Linked DNA regions of Homo sapiens. The protein of the gene in region 4 purifies or fractionates together with the protein of the main gene of each other region. This does not show direct contact. Each region holds a gene or a part of one and is shown on either strand. Other genes may lie near its edges.

Region 1 (7,024 bases), on a different chromosome or scaffold from region 4:
GTCTCTAGCAACTTTGTGGAGTTGCCATTCCTGCCTGGGGCTGTCTATTGTCGGAATTCTTTTAACTGGGAGAGAAATAAACTGCTTTGTATAAAGAAAAAAATGGGGGTATTACTCCAATAAATTGAAGTGATCCTAAAACAAAGAATACAGGCCTAGGGAGAATAAAGCAGGCCAAACTACGTGGTGTTTTTTTTTTTTTCCAAACAAATTTAATTCTGTTCCAGCCCCAAAGAAGAGGAAGGACCTAAAGTTCAAAAATAAAAATAAAAATTGCTAAAAATAAAAGCCATTACAAAATTAAGCCCCCTCCTTTAGCAATAAATACTGAACTGATATATACATATGAGGCTTAGGAAGGAGGCAACAACAGGAACCTTGGGGACTCTGTCCCATGGCAAGATCCCAAGACTTCTACCAATTCCATGCTCTTTGCTTAAAACATAGAGAGCAGTGGAAGAGACAGGAGAGATATGCCAGAAGAGTATGTGGCCCTGTAGAGAGCTGGAACATGATGAGGACAGAGGAGAGAGAAGAGATACGAAGTGTAATACAGGCAGGGAAAGAGAAAGTCTTCATTTAAAACATTCCTCCCATCCCTGCTGAATCACTGGATGTGGCTGGACCGGCTGTCCAGAGCCTTGTCTCCTCTCCTCCACTCCCTGTTGAGCATGCAAGTCAAAGGTCATTCACACTGTGGTCGCGATGCCACTGTGGCAACAGCCTGGCTGCTGGATCCCTGAGGCTTCCCATTCACCACTAGCAGGAGGGGCGTCTCCACTCGAACACTGGAAAAGGAATAGTCCTAGAAAAGACAGACAGACAAAGGTTCACTACAGATTCCAAGATGGAAAAAGCTCCAGCATGGGGATACACCACTTGCAACTTTCTGCACCACCTCCCCTGTTGTATACCCCCTCTACTTCCATCTCACATCAGACAAAACTGAGCTAACACAGGGGACGAAAATTTCCCAAAGTTTTCAATCTTCAGAAGGAAAACATGGAGCATGTAAGGTCATGTAGTGCCACTACAAGAATGAGACAGCTCTTTGATCCAAAAAAGGCAGGTTCCTGGCATTGCCTAACAAAAGAATGCAACCAACTCTCATAGAATCTGCCTTTTCCCACGGTGTTTCCTGATAATTAACTAGATACACATAGCAGCCGGCCAGAGCCAGTGGGAATCCTGAGAAAATCTCAGTCCAAATGTTTATAAGGTCCTAATTTAATCCACCAAATACAAATTAAAGTTACTTCTCTTTTATATCAAGAGGAGGAAATAGAACATGAAACAGAATGTAGCCGTTTTCCTAATAACAAAAAAGGTATCAGCTCACTGTATCAGTTTAAGTGTATTTTAAGTTGTAAAACATATTAAATAGTCTTCATCCAAAAAATATGGCAATGAGAGGCAGGCTCTTTTAAGTCCAAGTAAAGTAAATTTAAAAGTTCTCATAAACCAATTTTTTTTAAGTCTTCACAGAAATATCAACAAGTGACACAAAAAATGGCAATTTATACAAGAAATATAAATTAATATTCATGCTATATTTTCCATGTAAAATTAGAAAATAACTTTTCAAAGGTTTCCAACCAGAGTTGAGAAAAAAACTACAGAGAAACACTTATTTACATCCACTGTTGGTAGTGACAACTAACTAGTACAATTTTCCAAAGAATTATTTGGCAATATGTATCAAAAGCCTCAGAATTCTGCATACCCTTTGGACCCAGGAGTCTACATTAGAAATTCATTTAAGGAACTAATCATAGATACAAGCAAAGATACAAAAATCCTCACTGTGTTTCTAATTTTTTTTCTATTATAAAAGTACTAATTTAGATCGGAGGTCATCAAAGTATTTCTGCAAAGGGACAGATAGTAAATATTTTAGGCTTTGTAGGTCATATGGTCTCTGTTACAGAACAAGTCACCTCTGACACTATAGTGCAAAAACAGCCACAGACAATAGTAAGCAAATGAGTGTGGCTGTGTTCCAATAAAGCTTTATTTGTGGACACTGAAATCTGAATTTCCTGTAATTTTCACATATCACAAAATATTACGCTTCTGTCCATTTTTTTCACTTAACAACACAGAAACCACACTCTTGTTTTTCTTTTTTTTTTGAGGCAGACTTTCTCTATCACCCGGGCTGGCGTGCAATGGGACAATAATGGCTTACTGCAGCCTCAAACTCCTGAGATAAAGTGGTTCTCTCACTTCAGCCTCCTTAGTAGCTGGGACTACAGGCATGTGCTACCATACCTGGCTAAGTTTTTTAACATTTTTTTGTAGAGACGGGGTCTCACTATATAGCCCAGGCTGGTCTTAAACTCCTGGGCTCAAGTGATCCTCCCACCTTGGCCTTCCAAAGTGCTGGGATTTTACGCATGAGCCACCATGCCCAGCCTAGAAACCATTATTAATAAACACAAGCAGTGAGCCAGATTTGGTCAATGGGCTTTGCCAACCTCTGATCTAAATGGTTAAACAGTAGTTAAATATCTACATTCATAAGGTTTTTTTAAGAATTGAATGGGGCAAGGCAGGTAATAAAAACTCTTAGCACAGTGTCTAGCACTCAATTAAGTGTTAAATAAATGTTAACTATCATTACCATCTTCATCACCCCGTGTCTACTCAATGTGGTGAAATATGTAAAAACATAGGAAACATTCACAAACATTTGCATATAATATCCCACTCATGATTTAAAATATAGATATATGTGTATATATTTGTGAAAAGAAAAGACTTCAGGTATATACACCAAACTGTTAACAGTAACAGTTAAAAGGCAGTAATACCTGAGTGATAATATTTCACTGCATTTTTTTATTTTTCTGCTTACCAGTTTACCTTTTTAGTAAAAAAATACATATATATATATAAATAAAACATATACACACAAATATATATACACATAGCCTACACACATACTTACATATAATTATTTCTATATCTTTTATAAAAAGATAAGCTTGGTTCTACTTTTAGAGCCTACGAGTTGTAAGAGAATCCTAGCCATTGCTCACCTTTCCTTTGTGCTGAATTCGGTGAAGCCGCAGGTTGGGCTCAGGAATGGCTACAGAGTCTCCAATGAGCACTCCCCAGCTCTGCACTATATTGTACACCATCACTGCATAGCAAGGTCCATCTGAATCTACCAGGCCAAATGTACTACCAAGTAAAGACAGATTAGGAGAGAGGAAAACAAAAAGGTATGTGGGTAGGAAAGAAGAGCAGAAACAGTGGTTTAAAAATACTAGCAAAATACTGGACTTAAAGTCAGTGACAGGTAATTAAAATAAAATATAAAATTTAACTTAATTAAACTTTAAAAATAAAATACTAACAAAATAAACAAATGCTTTTTCTCAGTTACTCAGAAAACCTATGAGAGGTACCATCTTCCACTTTATATATCTGAGTCTTCATTTTTCTGAAACTCATCAGTCACTTTGCTAAGAACTTAGGACAAAGCACACTGAAGCCATTCAACAAATATTAATGATGAACTAGACCAACATGTTACAGTTGTAACATTATTCCTGGTCTATCAATTTAACTATCATACTCTTAACCAAAGCCTCTAACCATCACTGTCTGTGTAGTTTAACTCCACAAACTTTCACTGAATATTACATATGTGCCAAGCATTGTGTTTAGCAATAAGATACCAATCCAGCTATGAATGACCTATAGTCTAGCAGGAGTCAGACAATGAAGTCATCACTTACAGCACAGTGTGATGGGTGCTAGAATAGCTTTTCCCTTGTGCTGAATTCAATGAAGCCACAGATTGGGCTGTGGGAGCCCAGAGGACAAATATCTAAATCAAAATTGGAAAGCAGGGAAGATTTCCTGGAAGAGGTGACGCTCAAAGTGAATCTTAAAGGGTAAAAAACCAGCTGGGTTAAAAGAGAAAAATTAATCCTCGGTAAAAATGTTAAAAACCTCTGAGGGGATAGGAACAGAGATTTTGACTTGGAGGCAACATCAGGGAACTTCCCAGAATGGTGGTAATGATCTCTATTTGGGTTATACAGATATTTTCCATTTGTTAAAAGCTATGAAATGTACGCTTAAAATTGTACATTTCATTGTATGTAAATTTTACATAAAAAGAAAAAATTGAAACAAATACTGAACTCAGTTAATGACTGCATGCTAAAGTATGTAAAGTATATTGATCTCTGCAATTTACTCTGATAGCAGGATAAACAGACTGATATGTAATAAGCTAAGTAAAATAAAATATTAATGGTAGAATATAAGTGGATGAGAACACAAATGTTCAATGTAAAACTCTTTCAACTTAGCTATATGTTTGAAAATTTTTATACAAAATGTTGGGGGCAGAAGAGGATGTTAGCTATGTCAAGAAGAAGCTAGAGATTATCCAGGCAGAGTAACTGTATGTAAGACACAGAGGCATGAAAACAGCTGTTCTAAAACCAACAAAATTGTTCCATGGTTGAAACAAAAGGCACTGGTGGGAAAGAGACAAAAGATAATAGAAAGAGAAGCAGGGAGCAAATCATGAAGGACTTTGTATGCTAACCTAAGTAGTTCACACTTTATCCCAAAAGCTACATATAGTACCAGTAAGGGATCTTAAATAAGAAGTAGCAATGGTCAGATTTCCATCTAAGAAACATTTCTCTGGCAGCACTGTGGAACACTGGAGGAAACCAGAGAATCAGGGAGACCTATCTGGAGAAGTGATAAGGGGGTGAATTAAGGTGGTAAACACAGAGAAGTCAAGTCTATAGGACAAAAAAGGCAAATCTTTTTGGAGAATGGAGAAGCCTATTCTTCCAAAAGTCTTAATCAAGTGACTGAGAGGTGATACCATTCATTCACAAGGAATCCAGGGAGGAGAAGCAGGTTTACAGAGAAAGATTTAGGTGAGTAATACTGAAATACTGAGTTAGAGATTTCTTATTGGAACCCAGAAGCAGATGGTTATAGGAATCCAACACTTGGAAATGAAGCTTGGGCTGGAGATATATCTGTAAGCATATAGGAGGCTGCCAAAGCCTTGGGTTTATATGACATCACAGGGCAAGATGATCTATAGACAGGATGGAGAAGAATCACACTCATGCCATCACGTGACATGCCTGAATTCACAGGAAATATTGCAATCAAGCAAAGCACTCTCCTGATGAATCCAGTCAAAGCCTCAGAATCCTTCTACACAGTATGTCAGGCAACCACTGACAAGTGATCAAAGTTGGCAACTATAGGCCATCCTGATATAAAGAGAAAAAAGGAAAAAAACAAAAATAGAGTCCTGGGAACCTAAGATTTAAAAGTTAGGCAGAAAAAGAGAAACCAAGGAGTGGCAAAATATCTATTTGTTCTCAAGGTCCTCCAAAACCTACCTTTGTCTATATCCCTTTCTAATTCTTCTCAGCTCTAGGATTTGCTCTAGTAAACTAAACTGTTCTCAACTATCTTTTTGCCCTTCAACTCGTCAAATATACAAACCCCTAGAAAATGCCATGGAGAAAGCTTGGGCATATAATGGGAATTGTGAATATTTCTGTTTAGATGAACAGAAAGGATGTGAAAAGCAATAGTGAGAGATAAGTCAGAATGTTTTGGAACCATGCAATAGAAGTTGCTGGATCCAGTGCCTAGAAAGACAATGGTGATCCTAGGAAAATAACAATTTCAGTAGAAAAGAGAAAGGGGAAACCGGTCAACCAGGGATTAGGAAGTGAGTGAAGGACCAAGGAGTGGTGGCATTCACTAAACCGTAACTTTTCAAGATCCAAAAATTTTCTAAACAAATATTCTTAATTCATTTCCTCTGCTGCTAGAAGCACCTGCACCTGGGTCCTTTACATTTCTTTTTTCTCACTCCCTATGACACATATATTACACACTCAATAAATATTTGTTGAATGACATCTAAGACAATCTCCCAACCAGACTTTAAATTATAACTCAAAGCTCACTTTTCAGAACTAAGTATACCTAAGTACAAACAGGACTAAGAAATTTGTCCTCCTTCAACTTCTATGATCATGAAAATGCAAAGGGACAGAAGAATTTTGAGGTTTCTGTCTTATAAAAAAATATGTCCTGCCAAATTTCAACTATGGATATAGGAATCCACATAGCACCAAACTCAGGGATACAAAATGGGCAGTGACAGAATCTACAAAAGCCTCTGATCAAAAGATGGTTAAACATCACCCAGACAATATCTGCCCACGGGATAGTCACAGAAGGAAATCAGAAGTCACAAATCTGTGACCACTGACAATCTCCTCAACTGCCAGGGAAAGAACAGGAAGTGAGAGCAATTAGTTCAAAAGGGTAAAATGGGGGAAATCCAAGAGAAACTCACAAGGGGACTTTCTCCTCTGTGGTGAGGCTAAATACCACCTTTCCCAGGATGACGGCACCGCTGTTCACCCCAGGCTGAAGCGTACTCAGTGGCTTGAGCTCCAGGGTCACTTTCTGCCCAGAGGCTGACTGATAGTGCCCATCACTGCAAGGGCCTAGATGGGCTGGGCGCAAGCTTCCCAGCATGCTCTGCAGCTTTTTGGTCTTCACCTTTCCCTGCAAAGAAGGGGAAATAGGTAAGAAGCTGGAAACTAGTCGCCTTCCTTGAGATTCTAATCCTTCCCTCCCACCCACTTCTATAGGGTCTCTACCTCGTAAACCTATTTATTCTTATTTTATTGACCCACGACAAAATAAAAAAAAAAAAAGTGGAATTCAGCCCTTCAGACATTTTTACCTTACTCTCAAGGAGGCTGGTTAATCTATCCAGGAATTCCAGAAGTTGTTGCTCTCGTTGCCGGGGCTCTGGCCAGGCAGGGTCCAGGGCTGCAGCCCGAGAGAAGCCCTCCAGGGCCTCCCCATAACTCTCTTCATATTTATGCAACTGTACAAGAAGTGTATCCCAATTATAAGTATATCCAGACAAACTATCCCGAGGGAATGGCACCATGGGCTAGGAATCTAGAGAAATAAACTGTTTTCCTTCCTGGTTATT
Region 2 (8,012 bases), on a different chromosome or scaffold from region 4:
GCAGAGGTTGCAGTGAGCTGAGATCATGCCACTGCACTCCAGCCTGGGCAACAGAGCGAGACCCTGTCTCAAAAGAAACACACACAAAAAACACAAACACACAACCCCTGACTCTCTTTGAAGACTCAGTGTAGAGGAAGTCACATGTGAAAGACCCTGTAAAAGAAGTTAAGGGTTTCAGATATTATGCTGTGAACAGCGGGAAGACCCCAGGGGTTAACATGGGGGGAGGAGGTGGAGGTATTTGCACTTATGCATCTGAGAAGTGGGGCACTTCCAGGAGCCCTGTGTGTCCAGAGGAGAATTTCTCTTGCCCCAAATTTCCCTGCTGCGAGCCACTTCTGATTTCTCCAAGGTGTTGTTTTGTGAGGCTCACTTAGTCATTTTCTTTCTGGCCAAGGAGGTAGAGCACTATCCCTGCCTGCTTCTCGGGAACATATTGTCCGTATTGCTTGTGACTCGCAGTCAGAGAAATATTCTCTGTGCTTGCTAGAGTGTGTTTTAAATTAAAGTGCCAGGGGATGTGGAGATGGTCATTAATTTTAAGTGCATCTATTGTTAGCAAATGATGTCACCGCTGAGCTCTCCAACTTGTCACAAGAAGTCTGGATATATTTCGGGTTTCTGTAGCAGGGACAGTTCCTGTTTTGAAGTGTGCAGGCTATGAATACGGTCTGCTTTCTGTGAGGAACGGTAGAGCTTTTGGTGCACGTTTAAAATGATACTGGCTGTTGGAAGCAAACATTGTGCCCCAATGAGTCAATCAAGTTTCATTTTTTTTTCAAGGTAGGAGGAATGGCAAGAAGTTGACTGTTAGTAATTATATAAATATCAACCTCTGTTCTTTAGAACCTCTTCGAGGTAGGAAGTCATGTCCTATTTATCACAGTGTTCCACGTGCCTTGCTCCAATTTTTTTTATTGCTTATTTATTGAATCTCTTATAAAAGAATTTTCTCAAAGACAAAGAGCATGCTATTATATCCCTCATAAATATCTCTCGAGCGTTTTGAAGGCACACAGTGTATGCCTGTTGGTTGACTGAACAGAGCAAGTTCCGGTTTTTGAAAAGGTGGAATAAAGAGGAAGAAAACTCCATTACTCCTGTTTTAGATGATCTGGTAAAATGTTCTCTATCAGCATCGCATACAGAGGTCTATTACATAGATCATCATATCTCAAATAATTAAATTCACTTGAGGGTCAGAAAAAAACAGATTCTTTGTGTAGAATCATTTACTGAAGAATTTAAAGGATTTTTCCTTGGGCTATCTCAGTCAGATTGGAACAGCTAGAGCCAGGGAAAATATTTCATAACGAGTCTTCTTGGTATATTAAAGTGCACATAACAGAGCGAGAAACTTTGAAAAATAACTTCAATATCCATAATCCTATAATTCCAAGGCATTTTTCATTTTTTCTTTTTCCTTTAGGAAGGTGGTTTTTTAAAGGGACTTTTGTTTTTAACTAAATGAGCTTAAAATAATGTGATTAGAAACCACTGTAGGCTGGGCACGGTGGTTCATGCCTGCAATCCCAGCACTTTGGGAGGCCGAGACAGGCAGATCACCTGAGGTCAGGAGTTCAAGACCAGCCTGGGCAATATGGCGAAACCCCGTCTTTACTAACAATACAAAAAATTAGCTGGGCGTGGTGGCAGGTGCCTATAGTTCCAGCTACTCAGGAGGCTGAGGCACGAGAATCACTTGAACCCGGGAGGCGGAGGTTGCAGTGAGCCAAGATCCATGCCACTGCTCCCCAGCTTGGGCGAGAGTGAGACTCTGTCTCAAAAAAAAAAAAAAAGAAAAGAAAAGAAAAGAAAAAACCACCGTACGGTGGCTCACGCCTGTAATCCCAGCACTTTGGGAGGCCGAGGCGGGCAGATCACGAGGTCAGGAGATCGAGACCATCCTGGCTAACATGGTGAAACCCCGTCTCTACTAAAAATACAAAAAATTAGCCAGGCGTGGTGGCGGGCACCTGTACTCCCAGCTACTCGGGAGGCTGAGGCAGGAGAATGGCGTGAACCCGGGAGGCGGAGCTTGCAGTGTGCCGAGGTCGCACCACTGTACTCCAGCCTGGGTGACAGAGCGAGACTCCATCTCCAAAAACAAAACAAAACAAAAAAACACTGTAGCACTGTAGCTTTTGGTTATCACACCAATGAATTCATATCTGAAATTAGAATAAGAAAATCACCAAGAGGACTATTTCATATATTCGGCTCAGGAGTTTTGTTTTTAGGAAACAAAAATCCCCACCACCTGCTGTTTTCTTGCTTTCTCTATCCCCTCCCCCACGATCACAGGGTCAGTGAAACCTGATCAGAAGTGTCCAGATACCGCTGTCCCAGAAGCCACTTTAAAGACTCTTTGGGCAGAAGCTCTGTGGCTTCCACCCCTCTTCCCAACCCTTGCACCCACCGGCAGGAGAACTCACCATGCAGAAGCAGGACCAACATCCCTCGGCCTTTCATCCACCCAGTGGCTTAGGACCACCCAGCCGTGGGACCCCTACCTGAGGGGAGAAAGGACAGGTCACCCAGTGCCCAGGAGGGCCCCATGAGAACCCTCCCATGCCTCCACACTTCTTCCTGAATGCCCTGCCTTTCTTTCTTCCTCACATTCCTTCCTTCTTAATGACCCTGGTGTTGGGCTAAGGGAAACCAGTAACAACAGAAAATCAGAAGCTCCCCACAAATGGACAGTTTGGATCTATTAGGAAACCCTTTGTCAGGCTACAGCCCTGACAGCAACTCAGATGGCATCACTGACAACCCAGCAAGGAAATGGATGGAGAGGAAACCCCTGCAGAGAAGCGTTAGTGAATGGTCCTCAAATGTTGCTTACCGTCCTGGGAGTCTCCCTGGTCCTGCTCCTCTGAGGTCCCCCTCCACTCCCTCAGCCCATCCATCTCCCAAGTCAGGCAGCCACAGATGCTGAAAATGGTTTGAGAGAGAAGTAAAGGTGGGGGTGGGGGGACGGGAGGAAGGGGTGAAGAGGAATAGTTACTTGTGCAGGTTTGAGTGCTTATTTTTCTTTCTCCAGATTTAATGGCAGGAAAATCCTCTGTATCACATGAGGATTAACAGAGATGAAAGAATGTGTCTGCCTTTCGAATCACTAAAGCCAGTGACAGATTTTGCTGACATACCAATCGGCTTTATCCCCGGGCCTTGACCACCCTGGCCCTCCTGTCCTCTCTCCATCTGCCTGGCCCCTTTCTCTCCTTAAACCTTCCCCAGACCCTGCCCCGTTCCCTGACCCCAGCCCCAGCCCCAAGCAATATGTAGCCTGAAATTGGCTTCCTGCCACCCAAACAGCATTATCAGCATTTTCAACAAGGACGCATTATATAACTTGGAGAGCTGGAGAAGGGACAGGACAGCTTAAAATGTTTCCCCAAAATGCCGGCTGCTGATTTCCTTTCTTTGAAGTGGTTGATGGTGAATGATACAAAAACGGACTGGAGAGAGTCCTTCCACTACAAGAAGGCAAGAGGTTCCCACTGGGGTTAGGGCTGGTAGTGGTGGCCTAAGGCAGTGGGTCCAGGAATGGGACCTTCAGAATCTGGCTGAGGTTTCTGAAACCCACCAGGACTCAGTTTAGGCCCTGGCTACTCAGTGTGGCCGGTGGACCAGCAGCAGTACCTGAGAGCTCGTTAGGAAAACAGAATCTCAGCGCCTTCTACCCCCCGCCCCAGACCTGTTGAATCAGCATCTGCTTTTTTTTTTTTTTTTTTTTTTTTGAGATGGAGTCTCACTCTGTCGCCCAGGCTGGAGTGCAGTGGCACAATCTTGGCTCACTGCAACCTCCACCTTCTGGGTTCAAGCGATTCCCCTGCCTCAGCTTCCTGAGTAGCTGGGACTACACCATGCCCAGCTAATTTTTTGTATTTTTAGTAGAGACGGGGTTTCACCATGTTGACCAGGATGGTCTTGATCTCTTGACCTTGTGATCCACCCGCCTCGGCCTCCCAGAGTGCTGGGATTACAGGCGTGAACCACCGCGCCCGGCCAGCATCTGCATTTTAACTAGGTCGGCGGAGAGGGGGATTCCTGTGCCCGGTAAAGTTTGGAAAGCCCTGTTTTAGGAGACTGGTGGAGGGGGTCTGATCAAAATGAGGGTGGCAGGGGGGCCTGTTTATCTAGCCTTTCTGGCCAGCAGTTCAGGTGCCCCCACATTCTCCTGGCCCCAGCAAGCCTCTGCTGTCTGCTGGGACAGCACTTCCAGGTATCCATGGCAACCTGCCAAGTTCTGGCCACGCAGGACTTGGTGAGCCAGTGCTGATGAAAGGAAGCCAGGAGTTCCCTTCCCACAGAAAGGGTTCTGGATGTGAATCTAGACATCTCAGGCCACCGTGCCCTGGGGAATTTTTGTTTTCTTCCATTTGAGCCTTGAAAGCCAAAATGTGGCTGAACTTGTCTAACCTGCTGGAAAGAAGAGAATACTAGGGATGGGGTAGGGATGTGGGTGGGGGAGGCCTCTCAAATGACATCTCTATCCCCAGTGTTGGACTCGCCTGGCTTATTAGATGAGAGCAGTGGGCAGCCCTCTCATTGTGACCACCAGTGTCGGAGGTGTCCCTGTAGCCATCACCCCAAGCCTTAGCCCAACGAAGCCCCCACTCCCCCAGCAGCAGTCCAGAGGCTGAATCTCGACTGTAAGAGCCAACCTGTCTGCACCCACAACCTTTGTTCGCAGCTTATTGGTCCAACCTTCCCTTCAATCTTCTCCAGGCCAGTGGGCCTGGTGCTCTGGCACTGGGATCCCACTAAGGAAGACCTTCTTCTCCACCTGTGAACTGAAACATTTCTCCCAAGTGGAAAATAAGGAGGCATCAGAGACTCTTGGCATAAAAAGGAAGGAGCCCATCCACCAGGTGAGCTGGTACCACCGACTTGGGAGGATGAGCAGCCCTTAATCAAAACCTTGCTGCAGGGAGAAAAGCAGGTGGCCCAGGGTTGTTACAGGAAATGCGATTGACTGACTTCCCCTGGGAGAAACTTAAAGCTCAAGACAGGAGAAAGGCCGGCCCTTTCAGAGCCTACTCCAGCCACTCGTGGGCTGCTGGGGGAGGGATTTTTTCGTTTTTGTTTTTGAGATGGAGCCTTACTCTGTCCCTCAGGCTGGAGTGCAGTGGCGTGATCTCAGCCCACTGCAACCTCTGCCTCCCGGGTTCAAGCAATTCTCCTGCCTCAGCCTCCTGAGTAGCTGGGACTACAGGTGAGTACCACCACACCCGGCTAATTTTTTTTGTATTTTTAGTAAAGATGAGGTTTCACCATGCTAGCCAGTTTGGTCTCGAACTCCCGACATCAAATGATCCACTGGCCTCAGCCTCCCAAAATGTTGGTATTACAGGCGTGAGCCACTGTACCTGGCCCTCCTGGGGTGGTTTTGTACCCATGCTAGTTCTCACTCATCATGCAGTTGGTAGCCCATAAAAGGAGCTGAAGGAGGGAGAAGGGGTGTGTAAGTGACCTTGAGAAATAGTGATGGCCCAAGATGCATGATTTTGCCAGCCTCCACCTCCTGGATTCAAGCCATTCTCCTGCCTCAGCCTCCCAAGTAGCTGGAACTACAGGCGCCGGCCACCATGCCTGGCTAATTTTTGTGTTTTTAGCAGAGATGGGGTTTCGCCGTTTTGGCCAGGCTTCCCCACCTTGGAATTGGTAAGAATTACCGATTAATTAAGACAGCCGGCGACTACTGGAGGCTTTGCCTGCTATCTGGAGGACACAGATTTGCCCTCCAGCCTTTCTGCCCTGTAGTGACAATTCACAGACACCCCAACCCTGGGTAGCCCTTCCTGGGCCTTTGCTTTGCTCCTTTCTTTCCCCACTTCTCCACCTGCTGAAATCTCAATCTGCCTGCTATGCTTAGCATAAGCGCTACCACCTCTAAGAAATGAATCCCCTTCCAGTGCCCTCCTTTCTCACTTGCAGGCATCTGCCTCGAAGTTCACAGTGTTTGTTTGTTTGTTTGTTTGTTTGTTTGTTTGTTTGTTTTGAAACTGAGTCTCGCTCTGCTGCCCAGGCTGGAGTGCAGTGGTGCGCTATCGGCTCACAGCAACCTCCGCCTCCCGGGTTCAAACAATTCTCCTGCCTCAGCCTCCGGAGTAGCTGGGATTACAGGCACGCGCCACCATGTCCGGTTAATTTTTGTATTTTTAGTAGAGATGGGGTTTCACCATATTGTCCAGGCTGGCCTCAAACTCCTGACCTCAAGTGATCCGCCCACCTCGGCCTCCCAAAGTGCTGGGATTACAGGCGTGAGCCACCACGCCAGGCCTGAGCCACTGCGCCCAAAGTTCATAGTGTTTGGATGGCTGGCCTCCTTGGAGGGGCTGTGCTTGATCCAAGTCTGCACTCCCACAATGTCTGGCTGGTGTCGCCTTCAGACAGGGCAAGAGGCAGGGAGACACAGGGCAAGGAGTCATTGAGGCCAAGACACTTACCCACCCAGAACCACGTTCTGGATACCTGCGACCTGGGAATTCACTGCCCAACAGGTTCTGAACCCACTCCTCTAGGTCCAGTCTCCTGAAGGTGGATGGTCTCACCAATGTGCATACTCGAGAGGTGATCCTTTAGGGGGTAGACAGTTGCAGAGAAGGGGACAGAGCTTGGATATGAGGACGTGCGTGGGAAAGATCCGCTATAGCATGGGATGGATCCGGCCTGGGAATAGAGGGAAGCTACGCCATGGCCTTGAGCTGGGGCCACTCTCTGTGCCATCACACCCTAGCCCAGAATGCTGAGGAATGCAAGAATTGCAAACTTGAATTTAACCTTCCAGATTGTTATGAAGGTATATCTGCTCAGATAGGAGGATAGAACATGTTTTATTTAACAGTTTTTTAGCTTGATGTGTAGCTTTTAAATATTCAGACATACAGTGTGTGGTCCTCCGTGCGTACTCTTGCCCCAGGCCCCACAAAGCTGGGCCCAAGCCTGGGTTTGGCACACAGGCGGAAGTGCACAATTGTTTGCTGAAGGGAATTGAAGCCCATGTGAGAATTTGTAAGGGAGCTATAGAAAGAGAACCGGGTGAGTGACAGCCTTGGCCTCTTACCCTTCCTTTTTCTCTGACTTACTGGATGGTGTCAGGACAGGGACTTTCAGTTCCTAGGCCTGATTGTACTCGAAACATATTCCATAATCTTGTCCAGACCCCTCATTCTTCAAGTGAGGAAACTGAGGCCCAGAGAGATTAAGTGACCTGCTCCCCAGAGTGACATATGAAGGTGGAGCTGGGACCCAGTGGGTACCCTGTCCTCCTGCCTCCCAGTCCCTGGGTTTTTCTCGGGTCCTAATAAGGACACACACAGCCCCTGTGGCCACCCCCGACGTCCCCACTGCATGCCTCAGATCAGGATGGGGGAGGGGTAGCCACTCCCCTCTTGCTGGGCACCTCTAAATGACCTTGGCTGAACCTATTCTGTGGCTAAAGCACCCAACTCCCTTGTTCTTTATTCGCAAACTATCCTACTTCTGTCGTTTCACATCCGCCCTTCCAATCCAAACCCCAGCTCAGTGGGGTTGGATTGGATCAGCCTGGGCTCCCGGGCCTCATTTCTGGAATTGGAGGAAGGAGGAAGAGAGGCGAGAGTGCCCTCATTCCGCTGACTCCCAGTGTAGTGACAGTGACGTCGCCCCAACGGCAGGCCCGGACACAGTTAGGTGCGGGCTCGCGCCCCATCTGGTGCCCCGGGGCTCAGGGCGCGCCGCCGCGGTCCTGGAGGGGCAGTAGGCAGCGAGTCACTGGGCTGGACGTTTCCGCTCTGGCTCCTCCCTCCGCGGGCTTCAGAAAACTAGTTCAGCTCGCTGGCCCCGGCTGGCAACCGTGCGTGACACAGTGGTTTTTTTTTCCCATAAAGGTCACGTCCTTGCGAAACCTCTGCAGCCTCTGCCGGTAACCACCACCCCGGCCCCACCCTGGGGAGAAGGGGCGGAGCCTCCGGGGCGAGCCACGCCCCCGATGAGCCCGGTCCTGCCCAGCGTGGCCGCCA
Region 3 (7,024 bases), on a different chromosome or scaffold from region 4:
CTGGGCAATGGGGCTGCAGTGGTGAATTAAACACATTGGTCCTTACCCTCAGGGAGCTCATGGGCTAGTCAGGAGAGCAGAAAAACACACGAATAAGTAAACTACTAATTCCAAAATGTGGGGATGTACAATGGAGGGAAAAAGGAGAGTGTTCTGACAGGGACTCACAGAAAAACCTGCTTTGTCCTGGGTGGTCAGAGACCATCTCTCTGAGAGAGATGTAATGAAGGACTGAGCCTGGGTGGGCTCCAGTGTAAAATACACCAGGCAGCAAACAAGAGCATATGCAAAGGGCCTGAGGCAGAGCAGAGTGGGCTTATTTAAGTTGCTAGTGGGAGGCCAGGGTGATGGGAGCTGTCAAAGATAAGCACAGCCAGATATTAGTTTAGGCAGTGACAATAGGTTTCATTCAGTAACTGCTGACAGTGGGGGAAAGAGCTAGGCTCCATTCTGATTTGTGCAGTGGTGATGTGAGCATTTTAAAGGGAGAATGAGGGAGGGGAGAACGCAGGGCTCTGTAGAGTCAGAGAAGTAAAAAGGTAGAAAGGGCTGGTCAGTGTAAATGTGAGGAGGCCAGCTGTGTCTGATAGCTGGCAGTTCTCTCGATTAGGACTCTATTCTCCCGCAGAGACTGCGAGACAGACACTCTATCCATCCTGATGATTGTGTTGCAAAGGAATGGCTCTCAGTCCTTGAGAGAGATGCTTGTGAGTTTCAAGAGATACATATTCACAGTTTTAAGTCCTTTTTAGTAAATTCTCTTGGAAAGGGAGGTCAGGGGCCTATCATCAGTTGTGTGTTGAGTAGAAGAAACAGGTACATTTTCCTGGCAGCACTGAGTTTTCTCAGGCAAGCACTTTAAGGGGAACCGGGCCATCCTAGGGACACAGATTTGTTCTGCTAGGAGCCATGCCAGAGTCTGGTCAGGTCTCTTAGTGCAGAGGTTTGGACAGATGTGTCAAGTGTGGGAAATTCTACAGTTCTCAGCACAAAGCAAGCAGTAGGTTAGCCGAAGGGAAAAGGTGGAAGAAACATCCAGATGCAGCCTGGCTTCCCTCAATCCCCGCGCTGGGGTTTTCCGTGTCTTTCTGCTGGCTTCCCCTTGGCTTCCCTCCAGCCTTCTCTCTGTAGCTTTCCCTCTTCTGGGTTTGGTTATTTTGACTTGTGAGAGCTTGCTTGATTATAATCCTGTCCCTCCCAGCTGGCGCAGGTTCCCCTGGGAACCCTGCAGCTCTAGGGCTGGACGCTGTGTTTTAGGCCTTAGCTCTTTGGCTCCCTGAGCCCCCGAGGCACCAGTGATTTCTTGGTGTCTTGGCAAAGAAAGACCAGGTTCCTGACCACTCTCCCAACCCCACTGCAATGGGCAAAGCTCTCGTTTGTTTGCTTCATTTTTTAAAAAATATATATATATTTTATTATACTTTAAGTTCTAGGGTACAAGTGCACAACATGCAGGTTTGTTACATATGTACACATGTGCCATGTTGGTGTGCTGCACCCTGTTTGCTTCATTTTTATTCAACAATGTGAGGACTGGGGAAGGGAAGGTGTTTGCAGATTAAACAAAACCACGAAGTGTGTTTCATATATAAGGTCTAGTTGTTGTGGAACAGAAAGGCCCATGATGTCTGTTAATTTTGTTTTGTATTGTGGTATATTAAAAATATGTTTTACAACCCAAATATCCATTGATGAGTGAATAGATAAATAAAATGTGGTAAACACAAATGATGAAATATTTTTAGCCTTAAAAATAAATGAAACTCTGATATATGCTACACTGAGATGAACCTTGAAAACATAAGTGAAGCAAGCTAGATACAAAAGGACAAATATTGTAAGATTCCACTTTTTTTTTTTTTTTTTTTTTGAGACGGAGTTTCGCTCTGTCGCCCAGGCTGGAGTGCAGTGGCGCGATCTCGACTCACTGCAAGCTCCGCCTCCCGGGTTCACGCCATTCTCCTGCCTCAGCCTCCCGTGTAGCTGGGACTACAGGCGCGCGCCACCATGCCCGGCTAATTTTTGTATTTTTAGTAGAGACGGGGTTTCACCGTGTTAGCCAGTATGGTCTCGATCTCCTGACCTCGTGATCCGCCCGTCTCGGCCTCCCAAAGTTCCACTTTTATGAAGTATCTAGAATAGTCAAATTTATAGAAACAGAAAGTAGCATAATGACTACCAGGGGCTGGAGTGGGGGAGAAATAGGAGGTAATTGTTTAATGTGTAAAGAGTTTCAGTTTCTGGAGATGGATAGATGTGATGGCTATAAAACAACGTGAATGCATGTACTTAATGCCACTAAAATGTACACTTGAAAATGGTTAAAATTGGCTGGGTGCGGTGGCTCACGCCTGTAATCCCAGCACTTTGGGAGGCCGAGGCGGGTGGATCACCTGAGGTCAGGAGTTTGAGACCAGCCTGGCCAACATGGTGAAACCCCATCTCTACTAAAAAAAATACAAAAATTAGCCGGGTGTGATGGCAGGCGCCTTAATCCCAGCTACTTGGGAGGCAGAGGCAGGAGAATCGTTTGAACCCTGGAGGCAGAGGTTACAGTGAGCCGAGATTGAGCCATTGCACTCAAGCCTGAGGGACAAGAGCGAGACTGCTGATATAGTTTGTCTTACAACATATTTTATTTCATTTAGAAATACTATTGTCTTATTACTTGATTGTAACACAACAAAGTTCATGGAACTATAGCTTTTGCTTTGTAATTTTTTTTTTTTTTTTTGAGAGTCTTGCTCTGTCACCTAGGCTAGAGTGCAGTGGTACAATCTCGGCTCACTGCAACCTCTGCATCCCAGGTTCAAGCGATTCTCCTGCCTCAGCTTCCCAAGTGGCTGGTATTACAGGCATGTGCCACCAAGCCCAGCTAATTTTTGTTTGTTTGTTTTGGTAGAGACAGTGTTTCACCATATTGGCTAGGCTGGTCTCGAACTCCTAACCTCAGGTGATCCACTTGCCTAGGCTTCCCAAAGTGCTGGAAGTACAAGGTATGAGCCACTATACCTGGCCTGCTTTGTAATTTGATCAATAAGAAATCTTCATAGAGAACTGGCAAGGGCTTCTGGAAAAATCATTTTGATTAAAGACATTTAAAACAAAAAAGGAGTAAAACTATGTGTTTAAGTGTCTAAATAAAAGATGGTTGGGCTCACTTTAAGGATTTACATAAAAAGAAAATAAATTATAGATCTAGTAAGAAGGCAGCTATAATATTTCAAGGGACCTGTTGATGTAAAGATGAGGGCTTACAGAAGCACAAAGTCAAAAAGGAACATAACCTGAAGTAACAGTGTAATGATAAGAAATAAACCCGGAATGTCTGCACTGAAATCCCAGCTCCATGACTTACTGGCTATGTGGCCCAGGGAAGTGACTTAACCTTTCTGTGCCTCATATTTCTCACTTGTAAAATGGAGCTGAGAGAGAAAGAGAGATGAGCTGCCCATGTGTTGGAGTAGACAATTATACCAGAGATGAGCAAAAATGGAAATAATAATCAAGCTTTTGATCATTCAGTACATAGTATCACCAAGAAGCTAAACCCAGAGAAAGTGCCCAATCCCTCAGCAAAAGGGTCATGCAGTTTTATGGACCCAGGACAGGAAGGAAGAGCATTGAGTACTGAGTCAGAGTGAAGACGAATGTTTTCAAGGTTCCCATCTTCCCCCAGAAAAAAAATCTCCACAGAAGCACCTGAGGAAGACCTCAAAGGAAGTCTCAAAATAAAGAGGGCTCTGAGCAAAGGTCATGGGCTAGGAATGAAAACAGGTGTAAGAAGAGCGTGGCCAGCCCAAGAGAGCTGTGTCCTTGACAGCAGAGTCCCCTCCAGAGACTGCATTGCACTGGCTGTGCTCTGAGTCTGGGGTGGCGAGGGCGGCTTTCTCCCACGGAGCCTGCCAGGTTAAGCCTTCGTAATTGCCTACGGTAAAGTCACGTAGGATTTTTGGCCAGGAGCTGGGCACCTCACCGGGGAAAAGAGAAACACAATCCATCACTCCCTCTATGCAGAAGGAATAGGAATGTGGTGGCTAAGTGCCCTTGCGAGGGAGACAGAGTCAACTGAAGCCAGCAGGGCTGTGCGTGGTCTAGTCAAGTTCTGGCCCTGGGTCCGTGGAGTCCTGGTAGCCACTCTCTACTTGTGTGGGTTGAGGTGGGCCTTCCTTGGAAGTCAAGGCTTCATCCAGGACTGGCCTGTTCTCTTTCAGGCAAACGAAGCGGATGCTGTGACACTGGATGCAGGTTTGGTGTATGATGCTTACCTGGCTCCCAATAACCTGAAGCCTGTGGTGGCAGAGTTCTATGGGTCAAAAGAGGGTAAGTTCTCCCTGGGACCCCAGGAAGGAGTTGTCATCCTTATTCTATATGCTGAGTGCTGTGTTTTACAGGCAGGTTTTGGATATCAGATATAATGAACATTCATCTTTGGAGAGTGAGTAGAGAATGAGGGGCCCTGTCAGCTGCCACAGCCACACATCAAGGCCTCTGGGGGCTTTGGGCTGGCTGAGGACTGGTGCTCCTAAAACTGAGCCCTGGGCCAGGGGCATATGCTTATCAGAGAAACACAGCAGGCTGTGTGCAGCTTGACCTGAAGGCTACTGCGGTCTACTGATATGTCTAGGGTCCCTGGAGGCCTCTGGAGCCATAGGTACCACTCACACAGGAGGGGTCACTCTGGAGCACACACTCAGAGGCCAGCAGCCCTGCAAGTCTTCTGAGATCAACCTGACTGTCTCTGGGCCTGTGCCAGGGGACATGAAATACTTTGATGGGCCTCTGTTACCACAGCTCCAGTTTCCTGGTGGCTGAGGTTGGTAGGTGTAGGCAGACACGCTGCAGGGCCAGGGGAGGCAAAGCATTCAGGACACATGTGCGTGTGGCCTTCTTGCCCCTGTTTGCCTGGAGGGGTAATATTATAAATATTCCTTCTATGGTCTTCTCTCTCCCCTGCAACCCTAGGAAGGTTTTCCTGATTCCCCACTCCTTATCGCCCAGTCCAGTAAAAGCATGGCCTCTCCGCTCCCCTCCCTCCTCAAGAGTCCGGTGGTGATGAGCCATGTTTCCCTGCACCAGGCTGAGGGCCTTCCATTCACACTGTGCCTTTGCAGATCCACAGACTTTCTATTATGCTGTTGCTGTGGTGAAGAAGGATAGTGGCTTCCAGATGAACCAGCTTCGAGGCAAGAAGTCCTGCCACACGGGTCTAGGCAGGTCCGCTGGGTGGAACATCCCCATAGGCTTACTTTACTGTGACTTACCTGAGCCACGTAAACCTCTTGAGAAAGGTAAGCTGGCAGGAGTCTGGGTGCCCTCGAGCAGCTGCCTCTGCTCCAGATGCCCACACAGGCTGCACTAGACAGTCACCATCAGCAGACATGTGGGATGAACTCAGGTGGGGGAAAGAGGTTAACAGACTTTAAACTGGCAGGTCTGCTGCACCAGCAGCACTTGGGAGGTGGAGCTGAGCTTTTTTCTGCTCTGAGCTTCCAAAACCCCAGCAGAGGCTGTTCTGATGAGTGAGGAAAGGGCGCAAGGCTCGGCAGAGGGTTTCAGTCTAGGCGATGGTGGTTCTCTTGTCCACTTCTCTGGATTTCTTTCCTGGAGGTTTCTCTGGAGCCCTGCACCTCTCTTAAGCAGTTCTCATGTCTGGGGCATGGATCCCAGAGGGGACCTCTCTCTGAGCTGTTCCAGCCTCTGACAAAGCAGGGAGAAGGTGCTCTGAGAAAGACCCGAGATAGGCCTTGGTTAGTGGGAAGCATAGGCCTGTTTCCTCTGATGGATGGTGGCCAGACAGAGGTCAACTTGTTCCTATTAGAAATCCTTGATCTTGATGAGTTAGCATAAGGGCAAGCTGGGGCTGCATGTGCTGGTTTGGTTTTAGTCCCCTCTGTTCCCTGATGGGCCTGGGTGGGGTGATGCCATTGGCTGTGGCCAGCCTCACTCATGCTCTGTTGTCCATTTCTCTGTGCTGAGCAGCAGTGGCCAATTTCTTCTCGGGCAGCTGTGCCCCTTGTGCGGATGGGACGGACTTCCCCCAGCTGTGTCAACTGTGTCCAGGGTGTGGCTGCTCCACCCTTAACCAATACTTCGGCTACTCGGGAGCCTTCAAGTGAGTGAGATGTCTGCTGCTCCATGGTGGCCAAAGTGCCAAATGTCCTCAGGGTGAGAGTTCTTTGCTGGTCCAAAGCCGAGCCCTGCCTGCCTACAGGGGCATCGAGGTGGCCTAATCCCCTCCCAGTGAGTCAGAAGCACAACCTGGGACTCCTAGGCCAAGCCAGCCCATGTTCCCTTTCATCTGACCCTGACAAGTAGGTCCTTTTCCTGGGGACCCTTCCTTTCTCCCCAGAGCCCTCAAGCCTGGTCAGTGTCTCCTCTCGGTGGATCGGGCAGAGCCTGAAAGGACAATCATGCCTCTAGTGTCTGGGCCCACTGTCCAGGGACTGGCCCTCTTCCCTCAATCTCAGCAGTGTTACCTGCTCAGCACACTGCCTGTCTCCTGCCCCCATCACCGTCTCTATCTGGGAAGCTGATTTCTTGCTTTCTCTTTTTACCTTGATTATATCCTAAAGTTTTACAACCAGCCAAAGGCACATTTTCACCCTCAGGAGACACTATACCATTATCTTCTATTCCAGAAGTTTAAAAGCTCTTTTCACATGAAAATATCTTCAGTTGCATTTTGCTTCTTTGGGTTATGAGGGCTTTTTATCTCGTGTGAGCTCATTCCCCCATCTCAGCACTACGCTGGAGGTCTGCACACCATGGTGTTGCTTCAGCTACGGGGCTGCACCAGGCTCTATCCTAGTGTGAGTGCTGGACAGTGTGATCAGACTCTCCAGGTGCAGGAGAAGGGCCTGCCCTGCAGGAGCCCTGCTGATGTGTTTCTTTGACCCAGGTGTCTGAAGGATGGTGCTGGGGATGTGGCCTTTGTCAAGCACTCGACTATATTTGGTAAGAATGGGACAAGAATCCACCAGGGCCACTCCAAGTAGTGGGTGTTCTTTTTCTGTGTTCCCTT
Region 4 (7,024 bases):
TGGCTTACTTGGTGTTTCTATTTATAGATGAAACTGTTTCAAGTCAAACCTTTCTACAATTCTTTTTGTTCTTTATTTTTCCTCTGAAATTTGCAAAAGCTATTCAGCTTCAATTAATTTCCAGGCTTTTTTGACTACTCTAAAGTATGACTTCACTGACCTTTGTCCTAACTTTCTGATTTCCAGAACATTAGTTATTTTGCACTGATTACTACAGTATATTTAACCTTCAATTCTCTCTTTTCTACTCTGGAGTTTTGACCAATTCAGTTTCAGCTCCTGCCTAAGTTATCTTACCTGTAAGTATTCTATGCTATTTCCAATTCCTAATGTCCTTTTGACAAAAAGATCAAAATATTTTAACCAACACTTCATTACTCAATAACAAATATTTAATAAATATATAGTAAGAGCCTACTGTATGCAAAGCATTTTCAATTCTTTAATTTCCTTGCCTTTTCCTTCTCCAGCCTTCCTCAACTGATGCAAGTCATTTGTCCTCCACAAGTCTCAATCTTTTCTACTTAACAGACAAATCTGAACGGTAGGGTGATCATATTTAAACAGTGTCTGCTCTCATTGATCAGGCCTTAATATCTGATATCCTCCCAGACTACAGATTCCCATGATGACCCTTAGGATAATTTTTATTCCAAAGCAGTGTAGTACAGTGGAAATTGGTCTTGGAGGCAGATGAGTCTGAGTCAAAATTCTTATTCCAACATTTTGGAGTTATGACATCATCGGAAAATTACTCTGTTTCCTAACTATGAAATAGTACCCTTCTCTGCTGAAATATAACTAGGAAAATTGGCTAAATAGAAAATCTAATGTGCTCTGTCATCAATCATATTGTAAAACTTTGGGTACAGCCATAAGACTCTCTCCTTTCCTTTTTGGAGTACTAGAAGTGTCTAGACAAGGGCAAATAAATCTCATTTGAAGAACATGACTGTTTAATGAGACTCCATGCCCTTTAAGAGAGGGAAAGAACTAGGTACTCTTTGTAAATGTAAGGGAATATTTAAAAAGAGAGGGCTTATCAGACACGAGCAATGAAAACATGTTCCTCTTTAACACTGGATTGAAGGAGATGAGTGTCCACTGTTAAAGCCATAGATCTAAATTCTCCTTTTCTCCATTTACCAGAGAAGAGAGAAGTACCCATAGGCAAAAATCAAAGTAAAACAAAACAAAACAATGAGAAAGCATGAATCCAGAGATTCAACATCTGGTAGCATGGAACATTTGTTTCGAAAGAGCCAGTACAACATAGTAAAGAAGATCAGAGACCTATACCCAAGATGTATTCTCAGAAGGTGACAACATGAATGAGTAAAATTGAGGGGAGGGGGGAACGACTCAGAAAAGCAAATCTATAAGGAAATGTGTTTGACTCATTCTTGTCATTAGAAAGAAATGACCCCAATAAACGTACATGTGCATGTGTCTTTATAGCAGCATGATTTATAGTCCTTTGGGTATATACCCAGTAATGGGATGGCCGGGTCAAATGGTATTTCTAGTTCTAGATCCCTGAGGAGTCGCCACACTGACTTCCACAATGGTTGAACTAGTTTACAGTCCCACCAACAGTGTAAAAGTGTTCCTATTTCTCCACATCCTCTCCAGCACCTGTTGTTTCCTGACTTTTTAATGATTGCCATTCTAACTGGTGTGAGATGGTATCTCATTGTGGTTTTGATTTGCATTTCTCTGATGGCCAGTGATGGTGAGCATTTTTTCATGTGTTTTATGGCTGCATAAATGTCTTCTTTTGAGAAGTGTCTGTTCATGTCCTTTGCCCACTTTTTGATGGGGTTGTTTTTTTCTTGTAAATTTGTTTGAGTTCATTGTAGATTCTGGATATTAGTCCTTTGTCAGATAAGTAGTTTGCGAAAATTTTCTCCCATTTTGTAGGCTGCCTGTTCACTCTGATGGTAGTTTCTTTTGCTGTGCAAGAGCTCTTTAGTTTAATTAGATCTCATATGACAATTTTGGCTTTTGTTGCCACTGCTTTTGGTGTTTTAGACATGAAGTCCTTGCCCATGCCTATGTCCTGAATGGTAATGCCTAGGTTTTCTTCTAGGACTTCTATGGTTTAAGGTCTAACATTTAAGTCTTTAATCCATCTTGAATTAATTTTTGTATAAGGGGTAAGGAAGGGATTCAGTTTCAGCATATGGCTAGCCAGTTTTCCCAGCACCATTTATTAAATAGGGAATCCTTTCCCCATTGCTTGTTTTTCTCAGGTTTGTCAAAGATCAGATAGTTGTAGATATGCAGCGTTATTTCTGGGGGCTAAGTTCTGTTCCATTGATCTATATCTCTGTTTTGGTACCAGTACCATGCTGTTTTGGTTATTGTAGCCTTGTAGTATACTTTGAAGTCAGGTAGCGTGATGCCTCCAGCTTTGTTCTTTTGGCTTAGGATTGACTTGGCTATGCGGGCTCTTTTTTGGTTCCATATGAACTTTAAAGTAGTTTTTTCCAATTCTGTGAAGAAAGTCATTGGTAGCTTGATGGGGATGGCATTAAATCTATAAATTACATTGGGCAGCATGGCCATTTTCATGATATTGATTCTTCCTACTCATGAGCATGGAATGTTCTTCCATTTGTTTGTATCCTCTTTTATTTCATTGAGCAGTGGTTTGTAGTTCTCCTTGAAGAGGTCCTTCACGTCCCTCGTAAGGTGGATTCCTAGGTATTTTATTCTCTTTGAAGCAATTGTGAATGGGAGTTCACTCATGATTTGGCTCTCTGTTTGTCTGTTATTGGTGTATAAGAATGCCTGTGATTTTTGCACATTGATTTTGTATCCTGAGACTTTGCTGAAGTTGCTTATCAGCTCAAGGAGATTTTGGGCTGAGAAAATGGGGTTTTCTAGATATACAATCATGTCATCTGCAAACAGGGACAATTAGACTTCCTCTTTTCCTAATTGAATACCCTTTATTTCCTTCTCCTGCCTAATTGCCCTGGCCAGAACTTCCAACACTATGTTGAATAGGAGTGGTGAGGGAGGGCATCCCTGTCTTGTGCCAGTTTTCAAAGGGAATGCTTGCAGTTTTTGCCCATTCAGTATGATATTGGCTGTGGGTTTGTCATAGATAGCTGTTATTATTTTGAGATACTTCCCATCAATACCTAATTTCTTGAGAGTTTTTAGCATGAAGGGTTGTTGAATTTTGTCAAAGGCCTTTTCTGCATCTATTGAGATAATCCTGTGTTTTTTGTCTTTGCTTCTGTTTATATGCTGGATTACATTTATTGATTTGCGTATATTGAACCAGCCTTGCATCCCAGGGATGAAGCCCACTTGATCACGGTGGATAAGCTTTGTGATGTGCTGTGGGATTCGGTTTGCCAATATTTTATCGAGGATTTTTGCATCAATGTTCATCAAGGATATTGGTCTAATATTCTCTTTTTTGGTTGTGTCTCTGCCTGGATTTGGTATCAGGATGATGCTGGCATCATAAAATGAGTTAGGGAGGATTCCCTCTTTTTCTATTGATAGGAATAGTTTCAGAAGGAATGGTACCAGTTCCTCCTTGTACCTCTGGTAGAATTCGGCTGTGAATCCATCTGGTCCTGGACTCTTTTTGTTTGGTAAACTATTGATTATTGCCACAATTTCAGAACCTGTTATTGGTCTATTCAGAGAGGCAACTTCTTCCTGATTTAGTCTTGGGAGGGTGTATGTGTCAAGGAATTTATCCATTTCTTCTAGATTTTCTAGTTTATTTGCATAGAGGTGTTTGTAGTATTCCCTGATGGTAGTTTGTATTTCTGTGGGATCAGTGGTGATATCCCCTTTGTCATTTTTTATTGCGTCTATTTGATTCTTCTGTCTTTTCTTATCAGTCTTGCTAGCGGTCTATCAATTTTGTTGATCCTTTCAAAAAACCAGCTCCTGGATTCATTACTTTTTTGAAGGGTTTTTTGTGTCTCTATTTCCTTCAGTTCTGCTCTGATTTTAGTTATTTCTTGCCTTCTGCTAGCTTTTGAATGTGTTTGCTTTTGCTTTTCTAGTTCTTTTAATTGTGATGTTAGGTTGTCAATTTTGGATCTTTCCTGCTTTCTCTTGTGGGCATTTAGTGCTATAAATTTCCCTCTACACACTATTTTGAATGAGTCCCAGAGATTCTTGTATGTTGTGTCTTTGTTTTCATTAGTTTCAAAGAACATCTTTATTTCTGCCTTCATTTCGTTATGTACCCAGTAGTCATTCAGGAGCAGGTTGCTCAGTTTCCATGTAGTTGAGTGCTTTTGAGTGAGTTTCTTAATCCTGAGTTCTGGTTTGATTGCACTGTGGTCTGAGAGACAGTTTGTTATAATTTCTGATCTTTTACATTTGCTGAGGAGAGCTTTACTTCTAATGATGTGGTCAATTTTGGAATAGGTGTGGTGCTGAAAAAAATATATATTCTGTTGATTTGTGGTGGAGAGTTCTGTAGATGTCTACTAGGTCTGCTTGGTGCAGAGCTGAGTTCAATTCCTGGATATCCTTTTTAACTTTCTGTCTGTTGATCTGTCTAATGTTGACAGTGGGGTGTTAAAGTCTCCCATTATTATTGTGTGAGAGTCTAAGTCTCATTGTAGGTCACTGAGGACTTGCTTTATGAATGTAGGTGCTCCTGTATTGGGTGCATATATATTTAGGATAGTTAGCTCTTCTTGTTGAATTGATCCCTTTACCATTATGTAATGGCCTTCTTTGTCTCTTTTGATCTTTGTTGGTTTAAAGTCTGTTTTATCAGAGACTAGGATTGCAACCCCTGCCTTTTTTTGTTTTCCACTTGCTTGGTAGATCTTCCTCCATCCTTTCATTTTGAGCCTATGTGTGTCTCTGCATGTGAGATGGGTTTCCTGAATACAGCACACTGATGGGTCTTGACTCTTTATCCAATTTGCCAGTCTGTGTCTTTTAATTGGAGCATTTAGTCCATTTACATTTAAAGTTAATATTGTTATGTGTGTATTTGAGCCTGTCATTATGATGTTAGCTGGTTATTTTGCTCGTTAGTTGATGCAGTTTCTTCCTAGCATCGATGGTCTTTACAATTTGGCATGATTTTGCAGTGACTGGTACTGGTTGTTCCTTTCCATGTTTAGTGCTTCCTTCAGGACCTCTTTTAGGGCAGGCCTGGTGGTGACAAAATCTCTCAGTGTTTGCTTGTCTGTAAAGTATTTTATTTCTCCTTCACTTATGAAGCTTAGTTTGGCTTGATATGAAATTCTGGGTTGAAAATTCTTTTCTTTAAGAATGTTGAATAGTGGCCCTCACTCTCTACTGGCTTGTAGAGTTTCTGCCGAGAGATCCATGGTTAGTCTGATGGGCTTCCCTTTGTGAGTAACCCGACCTTTCTCTCTGGCTGCCGTTAACATTTTTTCCTTCATTTGAACTTTGGTGAATCTGATAATTATGTGTCTTGGAGTTGCTCTTCTCGAGGAGTATCTTTGTGGCGTTCTCTGTATTTCCTGAATCTGAATGTTAGCCTGCCTTGCTAGACTGGGGAAGTTCTCCTGGATAATATCCTGCAGAGTGTTTTCCAACTTAGTTCCATTCTTCCCTTCACTTTCAGGTACACCAATCAGACGTAGATTTGGTCTTTTCACATAGTCCCATATTTCTTGGAGGCTTTGTTCGTTTCTTTTTATTCTTTTTTCTCTAAACTTCCCTTCTCGCTTCATTTCATTCATTTCATCTTCCATCACTGATACCCTTTCTTCCAGTTGATCACATCAGCTCCTGAGGCTTCTGCATTCTTCACGCAGTTCTCGAGCCTTGGCTTTCAGCTCCATCAGCTCCTTTAAGCACTTCTCTGTATTGGTTATTATAGTTATACATTCATCGAAATTTTTTTCAAAGTTTTCAACTTCTTTTCCCTTGGTTTGAATTTCCTCCTGTAGCTCGGAGTAGTTTGATCATCTGAAGCCTTCTTCTCTCAACTCGTCAAAGTCATTCTCTGTCCAGCTTTGTTCCATTGCTGGTGAGGAGCTGCGTTCCTTTGTAGGAGGAAAGGCACTCTGCTTTTTAGAGTTTCCAGTTTTCCTGCTCTGTTTTTTCCCCGTCTTTGTGGTTTTATCTACTTTTGGTCTTTGATGATGTGATGTACAGATGGGTTTTTGGTGTGGATATCCTTTCTGTTTGTTAGTTTTCCTTCTAACAGACAGGATCCTCAGCTGCAGGTCTGTTGGAGTTTGCTAGAGGTCCACTCCAGACCCTGTTTGCCTGGGTACCAGCAGCGGTGGCTGCAGAACAGCGGATTTTCGTGAACTGTGAATGCTGCTGTCTGATCGTTCCTCTGGAAGTTTTGTCTCAGAGGAGTACCCGGCCGTGTGAGGTGTCATTCTGCCGCTACTGGGGGGTGCCTCCCAGTTAGGCTGCTCAGAGGTCAGGGATCAGGGACCCACTTGAGGAGGCAGTCTGCCCATTCTCAGATCTCCAGCTGCATGCTGGGAGAACCACTGCTCTCTTCAAAGCTGTCAGACAGGGACATTTAAGTCTGCGGAGGTTACTGCAGTCTTTTTGTTTGTCTGTGCCCTGACCCCAGAGGTGGAGCCTACAGAGACAGGCAGGCCTCCTTGAGCTGTGGTGGGCTCCACCCAGTTCGAGCTTCCAGGCTGCTTTGTTTACCTAAGCAAGCCTGGGCAATGGCGGGTGCCTCTCCCCCAGCCTCGCTGCCACCTTGCAGTTTGATCTCAGACTGCTGTGCTAGCAATCAGTGATACTCCATGGGCATAGGACCCTCCGAGCCTGGTGCGGGATATAATCTCCTGGTGCACCATTTTTTAAGCCCGTTGGAAAAGCACAGTATTGGGGTGGGAGTGACCTGATTTTCCAGGTGCCGTCTGTTACCCCTTTCTTTGACTAGGAAAGGGAACTCCCTGTCCCCTTGCGCTTCCCGAGTGAGGCAATGCCTCGCCCTGCTTCGGCTAGCACATGGCGTGCTGCACCCACTGTCCTGCGCCCACTGTCTGGCACTCCCTAGTGAGACGAACCCGGTACCTCAGAT

Evidence for each region.
Region 1: the proteins of STPG2 (region 4) and TTC5 purify together in Homo sapiens (affinity purification with mass spectrometry; 3 studies listed by BioGRID and IntAct, with this or other methods). This does not show direct contact.
Region 2: the proteins of STPG2 (region 4) and NYX purify together in Homo sapiens (affinity purification with mass spectrometry; 3 studies listed by BioGRID and IntAct, with this or other methods). This does not show direct contact.
Region 3: the proteins of STPG2 (region 4) and TF purify together in Homo sapiens (affinity purification with mass spectrometry; 3 studies listed by BioGRID and IntAct, with this or other methods). This does not show direct contact.

What each region holds. Positions count from the first base shown.
Region 1 is NC_000014.9:20,288,942-20,295,965, forward strand, and holds part of TTC5 (tetratricopeptide repeat protein 5), read right to left. Parts: intron 6,914-7,024; coding exon 6,767-6,913; intron 6,586-6,766; coding exon 6,371-6,585; intron 3,187-6,370; coding exon 3,042-3,186; intron 806-3,041; coding exon 686-805; 3' UTR 1-685. UniProt on the Homo sapiens protein: Cofactor involved in the regulation of various cellular mechanisms such as actin regulation, autophagy, chromatin regulation and DNA repair.
Region 2 is NC_000023.11:41,442,353-41,450,364, reverse strand, and holds the start of NYX (nyctalopin precursor), read right to left. Parts: upstream 3,023-8,012; 5' UTR 2,849-3,022; exon of another isoform or gene 2,517-2,848; 5' UTR 2,461-2,516; coding exon 2,439-2,460; intron 1-2,438.
Region 3 is NC_000003.12:133,749,381-133,756,404, forward strand, and holds part of TF (serotransferrin isoform 1 precursor), read left to right. Parts: intron 1-4,214; coding exon 4,215-4,323; intron 4,324-5,114; coding exon 5,115-5,291; intron 5,292-5,982; coding exon 5,983-6,115; intron 6,116-6,901; coding exon 6,902-6,957; intron 6,958-7,024. UniProt on the Homo sapiens protein: Transferrins are iron binding transport proteins which can bind two Fe(3+) ions in association with the binding of an anion, usually bicarbonate.
Region 4 is NC_000004.12:97,559,475-97,566,498, forward strand, and holds part of STPG2 (sperm-tail PG-rich repeat-containing protein 2), read right to left. Parts: intron 1-7,024.